Regions from separate parts of the Homo sapiens genome. Here regions 2 and 3 are each linked to region 1. Evidence: fine-mapped expression QTL. A gene starts in region 1. Each other region holds a variant in brackets. All regions are shown on one strand. Distances are from middle to middle. Region 1 holds the start of MTMR3 (myotubularin related protein 3). Region 2 overlaps MTMR3 (myotubularin related protein 3). Region 3 overlaps HORMAD2 (HORMA domain containing 2).

Region 1 (5,270 bases):
AGCAGATGACTGGTTAAGGGAATTTCCCTGCGGGGGGGCTTAATGGCTGATGAGAACCTTGGTTTATCAGACAATGGGAAAAACAGGTTGGAAAGTCCTTTTTTTTTTTTTCTTAATTTTTAAAGTTTAAGGCTGGGCGTTGTGGCTTACCCCTGTAATCCCAGCACTTTGGGAGGCGGAGGCAGATGGATCGTTTGAACTCAGGGGTTTGAGACCAGCCTGGGGAACACGGTGAGACACCACCCCCACCCCCCGTCTCTATGAGAAATACAAAAGTTAGCCAGGTGTGGTGGAGCACGCCTGTAGTCCCAGCTTCTCAAGAGGCTGAGGTGGGAGGATGGCTCGAGCCCTGGGAGGTAGAGGTTGCAGTGAGCAGAGATCCAGCCACTGCACTCCAGCCTGGACAACAGAGTGAGACCTTGTCTGAAAATAAAATAAAATATAAAAATAAAAAGAGGCCGGGCACGGTGGCTCATGCCTGTAATCCCAGCACTTTGGGAGGCCGAGACTGGTGGATCACCTGAGGTCGGGAGTTCGAGACCAGCCTGACCAACATGGAGAAACCCCGTCCCTACTAAAAATACAAAAAATTAGCCGGGTGTGGTGGCGTATGCCTGTAATCCCAGCTACTCGGGAGGCTGAGGCAGGAGAGTCGGTTGAACCCGGGAGGCAGAGGTTGCAGTGAGCCAAGTTCCCGCCATTACCCTCCAGCCTGGGCAACAAGAGTGAAACTCTGTCTCAAAAATAAAATAAAATAAAATAAAATAAAAAAACTTTAAATCATTCATCAATTTTAGTATTTACTGTTTCTTCTCCCATTCCATTAAGCCTATAGTCAGTCATAGAACAGAAAGGGAAAATCAGGGCAGCCACATATAAATACAGGTGCAAAGTTGAGGCAGGAGTGGACCCTCAAGGGCCAAGAAGAGGTCATTGCTGAGCTTCACATTTAGCCCTGGGCTTTCTGGAAGCCAGAGTGAAAAGAGAGACACAATCAGATGCGTAACAGTTATCAAAAAGCAGGAAGCACACCGGTTTTTCTGGTAGTAAAGCAAGGGCTTTCCAAGCTTTTAACTCTAAAGTAATTTATTTCGTTCTTTCTTTTTTCTCTCTCTGACACCCAGATTGGAGTGCAGTGGCACAATCAGGGCTCACTGCAACCTCTGCCTCCCAGGCTCAAGCCATTCTCCCACCTCAGCCTCTCAAATAGCTGGGACTACAGGCGTGCACCACCACGCCTGGCCAGTTTTTTGGTATTTTTTGTAGAGATGGGATTTCGCCATGTTGCCTAGGCTGGTCTCGAACTCCTGAGCTCAAGCAATCCACCTGCCTCGGCCTCCTAAAGTGCTGGGATTTCAGGCATGAGCCACTGCGCCCGGCCTAAAGTAATTTCTTACTTGAGATTTTATTTCAGGCTACTGTGTCCATGCACTGGGCAGTACAGCCTGGTGGGTAAGACAGCACAGTATTTTTTTTTTTTTTTTGTCTGCTGGGTTTGAATTTTGTTTTAATACACGCAATTTATTCTGTGCTTCACTTTCTTCATCTGTAATATGGAGATAATGGCATCTACCTATTAAAGTTGTGAAGATTCAATTAGATGAGTTGTATGAATAAATGTTAGCTGTTAGTTTAGTTTCGTTTTTTTGAGACGGAGTCTTGCTCTGTCGCCCAGGCTGGAGTGCGGTGGCGCAGTCTCAGCTCACTGCAACCTCCGCCTCCCGGGTTCAAGTTATTCTCCTGCCTCAGCCTCCCAAGTAGCTGGGATTACAGGCGCCCGCCACCATGCCCAGCTAACTTTTGTATTTTTAGTAGATCCGGGGTTTCACCAAGTTGGCCAGGCTGGTATCGAACACCTGAGTTCAGGTGATCCACTCACCTTGGCCTCCCAAAGTGCTGGGATTACAGGCGTGAGCCCCCGCGCCCAGCCAGCTGTTAGTTAATCAAGAAATTCGACTGCCTACTACTTAACCTGCACAGTTCTAGGTGCTGGGGAAACAGTGACGAACAAGACAAGATCCTTATCTTCAAGTAGCTTTTACATTTTAGTGGAGTAAAATGACAGTAAACATTGAAAATAAATTTCAGAAAGTGCTGTGGAAAAACTTTACAACAGACGCAGGAATAGATTTCATTTGACTAGTTCTCCCAGTTTCCAGAAAAGTCAAGGGTAGAATGTTAAAAGGCAACTCAGAGGAGGTGAATCTGTTAGGGCCTACGGTAATGCAATCCTGGTTTGTGGAATTCTGCAGGCTAGTGTGGGTAGGTTACAATTTTTTGGGGGAGTTGTTTTTTACTTTGTTTGAAAACTCACTTCTTCCCGCTGAGCTTTTGATTAGGAGCTGAAGTTGAATCAGTTTGAAATTGTATTCTGGACCGGATGCGGTGGTTCATGCCTGTAATCCCAGCGCTTTGGGAGGCCGAGGTGGGTGGATTGCTTCAGCCCAGGAGTTTGAGATCAGCCTGGACAAAATGGCAGAAACCTCATCTCTACAAAAAATACAAAATTTAGCCGGGCATGATGTTGTGAGTCTGTAGTCTCAGCTACTCAGGAGGCTGAGGTGTGAGGATCGCTTGAGCCCGGGAGGCAGAGGTTGCAGTGAGCCGAGATGCCACTGCACTCCAGCCTGGGCGACAGAGCCAGACTCTGTCTCAAAAAAAAAAAAAAAAAAAAAAAAAAGAAAAGAAAAGAAAAGAAATTGTATTCTGAATACAACTTCTAAAACACTATATTTACTTGCATTATATTAAACTGGTTTTATCCTGACCACAATTGCAGGTGGAAGATACCACTATTGTTCTATTTTTCTGGTAAGTAGAGTGAGCCATGTCTTGCCCAGGGTTACAGAGCTTGGAAAAGACGCCTCCTAAAAATCTGTAGGACCACCTTTGGTTTTCTTCCAGATTTTTTTTTGTCATCTCTTTTCCTCCACCCATTTCCCATCTGTCTAGCCATTCTTGCTCCGCTGGGCTTTTTCGCGAGCCTCTCCCCAGCTGCAGCCCCGCCCATCTCCTGGGGCGTGACCACCTGTCCAGGCCCCGCCCCCGTCCAACCGGCGGAGACCCGCCCCCTTTCCCGGACACCGGGCTCAGCGCCCGAGCGTGCGCGCGCGTCCTCGCTCGTCGCCCGGCTCGGCGTCGGGAGCGCGCTCTGTGTGGCCGCTGCCGCCATGTTGTTGTGGTTGTGAGAAGGCGGCGGCGGCGGCGGAGTAGCAGCCGGACGAGACGTCCCAGCGGCTCAGGCGCTGCCCAGCGCCGGCCCTGGCAGGGAGCCTGGTGGGGTGGCGGAGGGGGAGACTGTGCCGTGGAGGGCCTCGCCATGTCCTGCTGCCCGGTAAGAACCCCATCCCCGTCCTCCGTCTCCTCGGCGGGTGAGGAAGAGCTGGAGGAGGGGCCGGCCTCGGCCCCGGCCCTGGCCAGGCGGCTGTCACCCTCTGAGGAGGCAGCGCCCTGGGAGGGCTGGGGACTGCGTGCGGGGCCCGGGGAGGGGCGTCCCCGGCGGCTGTCGCCGCCAGGGGGAGGCGCTGGGTGTGGGAGTGGGAATGGGAGCTCGGCGGCCGAGCTCGGCCCGGACCCTAGATGCGGGGGAGGCGGGGTCCCGGGCTCGGGCTGCCTTCCCAGACCTGGCGGGGATGGGCCCGTGCGGCTCTGGGTGTGGGACGTACCCTCGGAGCGCCCGGAGTTATTCCCACGAACTCCCGGGAGGTGGGTGTGCGCCCTTCGCCCCCTGCCGGGTCTGTGGCGGTCCATCGTTGCCGGATACTGGAGGTCAGGGGCCATGGGAGCCCCGGGGCGAACGGTGCGGGCCTGGGCCTTGTGGAAAGGAGGAGTGACCGCCCGATCGTGCAGCAGGGCATCCCCCTGACCTGGTAGTACTTAGGTGGGTAGGATGATTGGGGGCGGTTGGCGTAACTGAGGGAACCCTGGTCAGACTGCTCCGCAAATGATTACAGTGTTATTTCTCCGGTAGTAATTTTGCTTGATGTATGGCATTTCCGGACCCATAAGATGATACTGTAGGTTGTATTTTGGACTGGAAAACTTATGTCAAAATTATGGGGTAGATTTTTTGGCCACATTAATAGACTCCCCTGGAATTTGATAATCTCACTTGTGAGTTTTGGACATGGACTGCTATTACATATTGATGTTCAAATGTCCTTTCCAGACCCAGGCCTAAATTCTTACTGTTGTAGTATCTTGATTCTGACATCTATTTTTCCACAACCCAAACAAACAAAACAAAACAAAACAAAACCCCAAAACCATATACTTTTCTAGTTAAGGTTCAACTTTCTCATATGTGAATGGTAATGCCATAAGAGGCCTGGGTTGAATTACAGGAGATTATTATTATTTTTTTCAATGTGAAATGTTTGTGATTTGTCCATGGAGAGGTGGTGGGGACCTTCCCCTTTCAGATTCAGGGCTGTTCAGTAGGACAGGAGACATTGATGGCATGCAGAAAGTCTTCCCTTTATAGGGCCTATGACTTGGGTAGGCTAGAAGAGCTTACAGAATGACACTTTTTTTTTTTTTTTTTTTTTTTTTTTTTAAGACAGAATCTCTCTCTCCCGCCCAGGCCGGAGTGCAGTAGTGCGATCTCTGCTCACTGCAACCTCCGCCTGCCAGGTTCTAGCAATCCTCCCACCTCAGCCTCCCAAGTAGCTGGGATTACAAGTGTGCGCCACCACGGCTGGCTAATTTTTGTATTTTTAGTAGAGACGGGGATTTCACCATGTTGGCCAGGCTGGCCTGGAACTCTTGACCTCAAGTGATCCGCTTGCGTTGGCCTTCGAAAGTGTTGGGATTATAGGCGTGAGCCACTGCCGCCAGCCAGAATGACACTGTTTTGAGTAAACCCAGTATAGTATGTGATATTAAATTAAATTTGGAGGATTCTAGAATTTTAGATTGGCTGCCTATGAATACCTCTTTTGGCTCCAATTACTCCCTCATTTTCAGGTGACTCAGAGAACTTCAAGTGACCAGCACAGTGGTACAGCCCCGCTTGTCGTTAATGACCAGCCATAAAAAACCCTGAGTTTCTCAGCTCATAGGCCAGGTTCTTCAGTGGTTGTCTAGTTTAAGGCTGGTCATTAGAAATATTATGGACTACCTAAATTCCTCGAACTCATGCAGGACCTGGTGAATTAAAATCTCTGAGGATAGAGCCTGGGGATCTGTCCTTACAAAGCTCCGTGAATGATTCTGGTCAGCAAGGCATGTGAACTTTTGCTTTAGGTTGGGTATTCCAAAGAAGTCCCATT
Region 2 (5,270 bases), 87 kb after region 1:
GTCTAGGGGCTTAGAATGCTCATTGCTGCTGGGTTGATACTGTAACTTTTTTGCAGCGTTTATTTTTATCTTATGAAGAGTTTGATTATATTGTTACTCTTCACCTCTGTTGTGTGTGTGTGTGTGTGTGTGTGTGTGTGTGTGTGTGTGCATGCGCGCGCGCGCGCATGTTTTTTAGAGACAAGGTCTTGCTCTGTCACTCAGGCTGGAGTGCAGTAGCATAAGCTCACTGCAGCCTTGAACTCCTGAGCTCAAGGGATCCTTCCACATCAGCCTCCCAAGTGGCTAGGACTACAGGTGTGCACAACCACCTAATTTTTTTTTTTTTTCAGTAGAGACAGTCTTGCTATGTTGCCCAGGCTGGCGTTGAACTCTGGGGCTCAAGCTGTCTTCCTGTCCTGGCCTCCCAAATTGCTAGGATTATAAGAGTGAGCCACTGCACATGGCTTCTGTATTTTTTTTTTTTTGAGCTATAAGTCATATCACATAAAATCCACCCTTTTAAAGTATACAATTCAGTGGTTTTTAGTATAGTCATAAAGCTGTAGAACCATTACCATTACCTAATTCCAAACATTTCATCACCCTGCAAAGGTACCTTGTACCCATTAGCAGTCACTCCCTATTCTTCCCTCAACCTGGCTCCTGGCAACCACTAATCTACTTTCTGTCTCTGTGGATTTACCTTTTCTGGACATCTCATACAAATGGAATCACACAATATATGGCCTTTTGTGCCCCAGGTTCTCTCATTTAGCATAATGTTTTCATCTATGTGTGTCATGTATCAGTATTTTATTCCATTTTATTGCTGGATAACTCCATTATATATACTGTGTGTGTGTGTGTGTGTGTGTGTGTGTATTTTTTGTTTGTTTATCCATTCACATTTTGTTTGTCCATTCATTGATTGATGCATATTTGGGTTGTTTGCACTTTTGGCCATCATGAATAATGCTGTTACGAAAATTTGTGTAGAAGTTTTTATGTGGACATACCTTGTCAGTTCTCTTAGGTATATACCCAGGAGTGGAACTGATGGGACATATGATGACTCTAAACTTTTTTGGGAACTGCCACACTTTTCCTCAGAGGTTGTACCACTTTACATTCCTGCCGGCAGTGTATGGGGGTTTCACCTTCACATTCCATCTACATCTGACATTAGTATCTTCCTCACTGGAGTTATATTTTGTTATTTAATAGTTTTGCAAAATGCATTAAATTCACTTCCATTTAAATTGTTTAAGATACAGCAGTTTGAATGTGTCAATGATGCTATCTTTAGAAATTTTATTCTAAAACACAAATATCTTTTGTGTAATATTAGGACAGTTTTTTAAAAGTAATTCAGTATGTTTCTTTTTTGAAAAGGTTCTTTATAACAGTATCCCGTTCTTTTAATAAGTTCATACCCTCAAATTTTCTCTGCCTTTGCCCTTCTCCTTTTTAATTCCAATAAGTGCCTTTTTGCACATCTTTACCTTCCTATCTAAAGTAGCATTTCTGTTACACCATCACCAAACTCTGCTTAATTTTCTTTGCAGCAGTTGCCTACTGCTTAACATTAGTTATCTGTTTCTTTGTTTCTAATGAGAAAGACCAACAATAAAATCAAGTTCCATGAATTTCTGTTCACAGTGGTGTCCCCAAAGTCTACAACAGTGCATGGAGTGTAGAAAATATTGAATAAATATTTATTGAAAAGAATGAATAAATGAGATAATTTTACATTAGTTTCAGTTCTTGAGCTAGGCCAAATCACAAAAGTTTGGCTTGGTTTGAAGAGTGGTTAAGAATGATGACTCCAACTTGGTCTGTTACTGAACCATAAGGTTCTTCCTCATCCTTCCAGCCTCTAAAAAATGGTGCACCCAAAACCCCTGTCCTTAGTCATCTTAGCCTCTCCATTTATACTTGCTCCTGCATTTGGCTTTAATGCCATTCACACACTGATGTCTCCCACATTTATGTTTATATCTCTAGGCTCCATCTTCTTGATCTCTAGTCTGGTTTAACTAGCACTTTACTTGGCATCTTTGTTTGGATATGTGATAGGTTTTCAAACATAATGTGTCTAAAATGGAAACTTTAATTTCTTGTTCCTTGTC[C/T]GTTGAGCTGTCTCTGCATGGCACGAGAAGAATAGATTTTTCTTACAATGCTCTTCATCAATAAATAGAAAATCCTTGCTTCCGGTTGCTGACACAAAAAGCTTGACTTCTCTTTTTCTATCCTATTTAATTAATCCACTCAAATCCTATGGGCAGTATTTTCAAAGTATATCCAGAATCAGTAACATCCCACCACTTCTATCTCTACTACCTTTTCATTGCTATATTGTCTCTTGCTGGGGTTAATGACGCTTTCTAATTGGTCTTCTTTTGCCCCTTACCCCCAGTAGCCTTGACTGTTCTCTACCCAACAGCCAAAATGATTCTTTTTTTTGTTTTTTTGGTTTTTTTTTGAGACTGAGTCTCACACTGTCACCTGGGCTGGATGTGCAATGGCGTGATCTCGGCTCACTGCAACCTCTGCCTCCCAGGTTCACGTTATTCTCCTGTCTTAGCCTCCCGAGTAGCTGGGACTACAGGCACACACCCCCATGCCCTGCTAATTTTTTGTATTTTTAGTAGAGATGGGGTTTCACTATGTTGGCCAGGCTGGTCTCGAACTCCTGACCTCGTGATCTGCCTGCCTTGGCCTCCCAGAATGCTGGGATTACAGGCGTGAGCCACCACACCCGGCCAAAATGATTCTTTAGAGTAAGTCATCTCCTACCATTCCTCTGCTCAAAATGCCTCAACACAATCTGGGCCTTGCTACTGCTTTTATGTTCTCTTGTTCCCTTGCTTACATTGCCCTTAAAAGAGTTTTATGCTGCACATTGAAGCCCAGACTCCCTGAAATATCCTGTGTTACAGAAGCTTAGCAAACTAGAAATGTTGGTTTTGCATGAGACTGTTCAAAGAAAAGAGCAACTTACTTACTCTTTGTATAAGCCTATTTTTGGGTTTCTAGTTGGATATTCTTTCCCCCTTTTTTGTTCTTATAAAACCAGGTAAAGGTATTAGTACAGATTGTAAGTTTTTAGAAGAGCATAGAATATTTGGGTAATAAGGCAAATTTATTTTTCCTATTTTGCTCGTAAGTCAGTTTGGTTTCCTCAGATGGGGGATCCATTTTGAATTTAGAGATAACCACAAAAACATCCTAAAATACTACAAGAATAATGATTTTGCATTTGCAGGTTGATGTTATTTATTTTTTTGAGACAGAGTCTTGCTCTGTTGCCCAGACTAGAGTGCAGTGGTGTAATCACAGCATACTACAGCCCCAACCTTCCAGGCTCAGTTGATCCTCCCACCTCATCCTCCTGAGTAACTGGGACTACAGGCATGTGCTGCCATGACCAGCTTTTTTTTTTTTTTTTTTTTTTTTTTTTGAGACAGAGTTTCACTCTGTTGCCCAGGCTGGTCTCAAACTTCTGAGCTCAGGCTATCTGCCTCAGCCTTCGAAAGTGCTGGGATTATAGGCATTAAGCCACCTTGCCTGGCCTGTAGGTTGATTTTAATTGTTGCTTTATTCATCCAAGTTTTATGATATTTTTTGTTTTACTACGAACATTAGGAATGTTAGCCTTTGATACTGTTTTTGCAGAAACAGGTTAAGACTAACAGGAGTTTTACAAAGGAACTGTCAAATTGGGATTTGACTAGTGGGAATTGGCTGGGTGATAATCAACTTTTTCTTGGCTGACTCTGATCAGCTTCTTAGGCCTGTGTATATACAATACCTTTGTGAGGATATGGCCGATTAGGGGAAAAACTATTGCCAATTTTGCCTCCCCTCCTCTTTTTTTTTTCTTCTTCCCCCTCTTCCCCCCCACCCCCAGACTTCACCATAAGGGAAAGAAGAGAGCCTTGTTGGACACTGAAGAAGGGACGGGGATTTCTCCTCCTAATCTGGGCCTCTTGTCATGGTAAGTACAAGGAAATAAGAGTAAAAAAAAAAACAAAAAACCCTGTGTCCTGACAATTAAGTGAACACTAATAAATTCATACTTACCCATTTTTGTTTTTGTAAGAAATTATTTCTTTTTCTTTCCCAGATCTCTTGTGTCTTTTCTTTTCTTGTTTACTTAGTAGTAATAGAGTACTCCAATATACAGAGCAGTTTCATTTCTGTTAACTTTAATCCTGTGAGCTAGATGTTGTCTCTTATTTTTCAGTCAGCAAGTAAATGGAATCAAGACTAAAACATACAGTTCTCGGACTCCAGGTTTTTAATTCCTTTTCTAGGAAGTAGCGTGTAGTGAAAACTGTGTGTGTGTGTTTGTGTGTAGACAAATTGTAAGATGGTAATCTGCATATTTACTTAAAAATTTTTTTAAATTGACAAATTACATATATATTGTGTACAGCATAATGTTTTGAAATACATATATACCTTGTGGAATGGCTAAATCAAGCTGATTAACATATGTATTACTTCACATAGTATATATGCTTTATGAATTTATAGAAGCAATTCCCTACCTTCCCTGTTTTGTCTCTTTAAGGCAGTATTTTGATCCCATAGTAGGTGGAGCAGCCCTGCACACCCCCTCCTGTATCTTTAACCAGAAAGAGAATTTAATGGACAATTTAATGACTTACGGGCCATTTCGGGCCCAGCTCAAGCAGAGAAGATGGAGCAACAAGCCAGCCACATTTTCATCAATCCTGAGGAAATGTAAACAGTGCTTCAAGGCTTAAAAAAGAAATGGTCCTCTGTAATATTGTCCTTCTTCTACCTTGTGATGTTTCCTAGATCCAAACTGTTTTATGCTGATGCACAGAGAAGGAATTGAAAAGGCTACATTAATTTCAAGCTTCATTAGGGACGTATGGAAAATGCTTTTCAAAATTAGAAAAAGTAAAACAAAAAAACTAGTTGTGCAGAAATGTCATATTAAAAGGAAGAGAAAGGTAACTGCCCTTATCTTAAAGGCATGCCAATTTTTTCTTAGTTTGTGGGCATTACAACTTTATGATTTATCTTATACCTAAACATTGATGAACTTTTCCTGTTATTTTCTTGATTATATTTTATTTTATTGGTTTTCCCACAGAGTTTTCAATGAATTGAAAAAGTGCTTGTCTAGTATTTCAGCCAGTGCTAATGAATAACAAATGATGGGCTTATGAAAGCAGCTCTGTTCTGTATTGAGGGTTTGTCCTTCATTGTATACCACACGGCTAGTAACAGTGTGGTCCTCTTCCTGGTGCTGC
Region 3 (5,270 bases), 210 kb after region 1:
ATACAGAACAGACTGGAGAAGGAGAATACCAGTGACAGGAAATTGGTGGTTGCAGCAGTACAGGCAAAAGATGAGACTGGTTGATTTAAAGTAGAGATGACAACAACCTGGCTAAAGTGAGGAGTTGGACACATTTGAGATATATATATATATATGTATGTGCAGGGGGACAGGGTTTCACTCTTGTTGCCCAGGCTGGAATGCAATGGCGTGATCTTGGCTCACTGCAACCTCCATCTACTGGGTTCAAGCGATTCTCCTGCCTCAGCCTCCCAAGTAGCTGGGATTACAGGCATGTGCCACTACGCCCAGCTAATTTTGTATTTTTAGTAGAGATGGGGTTTCTCCATGTTGGTCAAGCATGTGCCACCACGCCCAGCTAATTTTGTATTTTCAGTAGAGATGGGGTTTCTCCATGTTGGTCAGGCTGGTCTTGAACTCCTGACCTCAGGTGATCCGCCCACCTCAGCCTCCCAAAGTCCTGGGATTACAGGCGTGAGCCACTGCGCCTGGCCTACATTTGAGAAATATTAAGGTGATGGAACATGGGAACGAGGAAGGGATTAAGGTTGAGTCACAGATTTTGTGCTTGAGCAACTAGGTATGTGATGATGTCATTCACTGAGCGAGGGAACAGAAGTAAGTTTTTGGGGAAAATAATTCACATTCAAATGTGTTGAGAACATCAAGGTGGAACAGTCTTATGATCAGTTAGAAGAACAAGTCAGCAACTTCTGAGAGAGACCTGGGTTGGGGATATACACATAAGAATCAATAAGATAGAAGTTATACTTGAAACAATGGGAGTGTATTTGTTCATCCAGGGAGTGTGTGGTAGAAGTAAAAAAGAAGAGCTCTGTTTTAGTCTGTTCTTGCATTGCTATAAAGAAATTTCTGAGACTGGGTAATTTATAAAGAAAAGAGGTTTAATTGGCTCACAGTTCCACAGGCTGTACAGAAAGCATGGTAGCATCTGCCTGACTTTTGAGGAGGCCTCAGGAAACTTACAATTATGGCAGAAGACAAAGGAGAAGCAGGCACATCTTACATGGCCAAAGCAGGAGAGAGAGAGAGAGGAAAAAAAAAAAGGTTCTACACACCTTTAAACAACCAGATCTTGCAATAACTCACTCACTTACTATTGCAAGAACTGCACTGAGGGTATAGTGCTAAACCATTCATGAGAAACTGCCCAGATGATCCAGTTATCTCCTACTGTGCCTGGCCATGCCAGCTGCTAGGTAACTGAGTCAGAATTTGAACTTAGGTTCCTTAACTCTAAAGGCTCTTTCTACTAGATTATACTGCTGGTTATTTCTCTCTCTCTCTCTATATATATACATATATATATACACACACATACATATATACATATACAGATCTGTATATGTGTATACACACGTACACACGTATACATATACACACACGTACACACGTGTACATATACACACACGTACACACGTGTACATATACACACACGTACACATGTGTACATATACACATATGTATACACGTATACCTATGTATACATATATACATATATACCTATGTATACATATATACATATATACACATATATACATATATACACACATATATACATATACACACATATATACATATATACACACATATATACATACATATATATACACATATATACATATATGTATAAAATTTAATTTTACTTTTATAAATGTCAATTCCTAAGGAATTTACCAAATGCTAATATTAACCTGCTTGAATCCTTTCTCAATAGCAAGTGTCCTGAATGCCTCAGAGTTTTCAATGGTAATATTAATTTAATCTAGGCCATCCATACATTGCAAAAATATGGATGTAGTAATGCCTTGTGTTCTAATTGGCTGATGCTATTTTCAGAGCTTGATTCCCTAGAAATGACATCAGAATGTCTATGATCATAGAGAAATTTTTAAAACCCTACTAATTTAGAAAACTATTTAGTTTTATTAAGTAAGTTTTAATAAGTAAGTTTTATTAGTTTTATTAATTTTATTAATTAAAAAAGTTAATTTAAAAATTAATTTAAAAATTAAAAAGTAAGTTTTATTAAGTTTTATTAGTTTTATTAATATTAGTATTCTATACTAATATAGAAAACTATTCTAGAAAATCATGATTTCTCTTATTTATTGTGTCTAAGACTAATAACTACCCCAGTAGTGGGTAGTGTATTATGGTTTAATGGGCTGGGACTAGATCTTAAACTCTTAGAGCTACTTTGTTTCCCATTTTATTTTTTGAAATTTAAGGGGGACAACTGATGTATTAGATATGAAGGTTATAGTCTCAAATCAAGTAAAGATAGCTTGGAATCTTTAAGGGTTAAAGAACTATTGGTGGTTTTCAGTCTCATATATAAAATATTGTAAAAGAGTGTCCCCTAGTGCCCCTCTGAAGAAATAATTTGAAAGAAATTTAATATTACCACCTATTTATAATCTCTATCACCACCTTGTGGCAGTGTTCGCAAATAATTCTGCCCTCTTGGGAAAAATCTTCAAGAATCTTGCATTAATGGATACACAAAAACCGGTCACAGGCTATCCTTGGTGATCCAGAATGGAATATCTTTAAAGAAGTTATTTTACAAGTATTTTGGTCAGAACTTCATAAAACCTTGAAAAGAAGCCCCAGTTGAAATTAAATTAAGACTTTGTAAAGAAAAGGGAAAATTTGCTGCT[G/T]CTTCTTTTTTTTTTTTTTTGAGATGGAGTCTGGCTCTGTCGGCCAGGCTGGAGTGCAGTGGCGCAATCTTGGCTCACTGCAAGCTCCACCTCCCGGGTTCACGCCGTTCTCCTGCCTCAGCCTCCTGAGTAGCTGGGACTATAGGCGCCTGCCACTATGCCTGTCTAATTTTTGTATTTTTAGTAGAGATGGGATTTCACCATGTTGGCCAGGATGGTCTTGATCTCCTGACCTCGTGATCCACCCGCCTTGGCCTCCCAAAGTCCTGGGATTACAGGCATGAGCCACCATGCCCGGCTGCTTCTTTTTTATATCAACAAAACAATAAGGGTGAAAACTAGATGTATTTTAAATATTAACTTTTTTATTGTGGTAAACTGTAATATGAAACTCAACACCTCAGCTTTTCTAAGTGTACAACTCAGTGACACTAAGCACATTTGCAATGTTGTGCAACCATTATCACTATCCATTTCTAAAACCTTCTCATCATCGTGAACAGAAACTCTATACCTATTAAACTCTTTATTCCTTCTACCCCACCAGCACCTGGTAACCTCTATTCTACTTTCTGTCTCTGTGAATTTGCCTACTGTAGGTACCTCATATAAGTGGGATCATATAATATTTGTCCTTTTATGTCTGGCTTTTCACTTAGCATAATGTTTTCAAGATTTATTCACATTGTTGCATGTATCAGAACTTCATTCCTTTTTAAGATTGAATAGGGGTCGGGTGTGGTGGCTCATGCCTATAATCCCAGCACACTGGGAGGATGAGGCGGGTGGATTGCCTGAACCTAGGAATTCAAGACCAGCCTGGGCAACATGACAAAACCCCATCTCCACAAAAAATACAAAAATTAGCGAGGTGTGGTGGCAAATGCTTGTAGTCCCAGCTACTCGAGAGGCTGAGGTGGGAGAATCATTTAAGCCTGGGAGCGGGAGGTTGCAGTGAGCCGAGATCACGCCATTGCACTCTACTGTGGGTGACAGAAGGAGACCCCGTCTCAAAAACAAAACAAAACAAACAAATAAAACAATTGAGTAATATTCCATTGTAAATACCACATTTTGTTTATCCATTCATCTTTTAATAGACATTCGAACTGTTTCCATCTTTTGGCTAATATGAATTATGTGGCTATGAGCATTGGTGTACAAGTATCTGTTTGAGTCCCTGGTTTCAATTCTTTTGAATATATACCTAGAGATGGAAATGCTAGATAATATGGTAATTCTGTTTAACTTTTTGAGGAATGCCATTGCTATTTTCCACAATGGCTGCACCATTTTCATTCCCACCAGCAATGCATAAGGGTTTTAATTTCTCCACATCCTTACCAACTTACTATTTTCCATTTTTGAATAATCATTTATAAAATTTTTAATTGACACACAGTAATTGTACATATTTATGGGGTACAGAGTGATATTTTGATACATGTATACAATATGTAATGGTCAAGTCAAAGCATATTCATCAATTCAAACATTTATCATTCTTTGTGTTGAACTATTTTAAAATATACAATAAATCATTGTTAACTGTGGTCACTCTACAGTGCTATAGAACAATATAATTTATTCTCCTATCTAGCTGTAATTTTATATCCATTAACTAACTTCTCCCTATCCAACCTCCTCCCTGCTGCCCTTCCTAGCTTTTAATAACTACTTCTGAGAGCTCATCTGTTTTAGCTCCCAGATGAGTGAGAACACATGGTATTTATCTTTCTGTACTTGACTTACTTCACTTAAAATTATATCATCTAGGTTAATCTCTGTTGCTGTGAATGACAGATTTCATGCTTTTTTAAATGGCTGAATAATATTCCATTGTGTATATATATCCTTTCCTTCCTTTCTTTCTTTTTCTCTTTCTCTCTCTCTCTCTTTCTTTCTCTCTTTCTTTCTTTTTTTTTTTTTTTTTTGACAGAGTCTTGCTCTGTTGCCCAGGCTGGAGTGCAGTGGTGCAATCATGGCTCACTGCACTGCAGCCTTGAACTCCTGGGCTCAAGTAGTCCACCTTAGCTTCCCAAGTAGCTGGGACTATAGGTGCGTGCCACCACACCCAGCTAATTTTCGTATTTTTTGTACAGATAGGGTTTCACCATGTTGCCTAGGCTGGTCTTGAACTCCTGGGCTCAAGCAACCTGCCTGCCTCAACCTCCCAAAGTGCTGGGATTACAGACATGAGCTGCCACCCCGGCCTATATTTTATTCATGCATTCATCTGTTGATGGACACTTAGGTTGATTCCATATCTTGGCTATTGTGAATAGTGCTGCAATAAACATGGAGGTATAGATATCTCTTCCATATACTGATTTCTTTTCTTTTGGATAAATACCCAATAGTAGGATTGCTGGATTATATGGTTTCTATTTTAAGATTTTTGAGGACCTTCCATACTGTTTTCCATAATGCTTGTACTAATTTACATTCTTACCAACAGTGTATAAGAATTTTCTTTTCTTTGCATCCTTGCCAGCATTCGTTATTTTTTGTTATTTTATTTTATTTTATTTCATTTCATTTTTTGAGATGGAGTCTTGCTCTGTT

Evidence for each region.
Region 2: its variant is fine-mapped to the expression of MTMR3 in whole blood (INTERVAL, PIP 0.92).
Region 3: its variant is fine-mapped to the expression of MTMR3 in monocytes (TOPMed, PIP above 0.99).

The regions. Positions count from the first base shown.
Region 1 is chr22:29,880,026-29,885,295 of GRCh38, forward strand. It overlaps MTMR3 (myotubularin related protein 3), which reads left to right and starts at 3,149. Exons shown (of 20, transcript NM_021090.4): 1 at 3,149-3,334. RefSeq lists an enhancer at 2,955-3,249 and silencers at 2,962-3,131, 3,192-3,691.
Region 2 is chr22:29,967,084-29,972,353 of GRCh38, forward strand. MTMR3 (myotubularin related protein 3) reads left to right here. Exons shown (of 20, transcript NM_021090.4): 3 at 3,893-3,979. The coding sequence starts at 3,977. Among named protein-coding and RNA genes, the nearest start is that of MIR6818, 37 kb to the right of the region's middle. The variant C/T (reference allele first, on the strand shown) is at 2,112.
Region 3 is chr22:30,086,646-30,091,915 of GRCh38, forward strand. All of the region lies in intron 1 of HORMAD2 (HORMA domain containing 2), which reads left to right. Among named protein-coding and RNA genes, the nearest start is that of HORMAD2, 8.8 kb to the left of the region's middle. The variant G/T (reference allele first, on the strand shown) is at 2,706.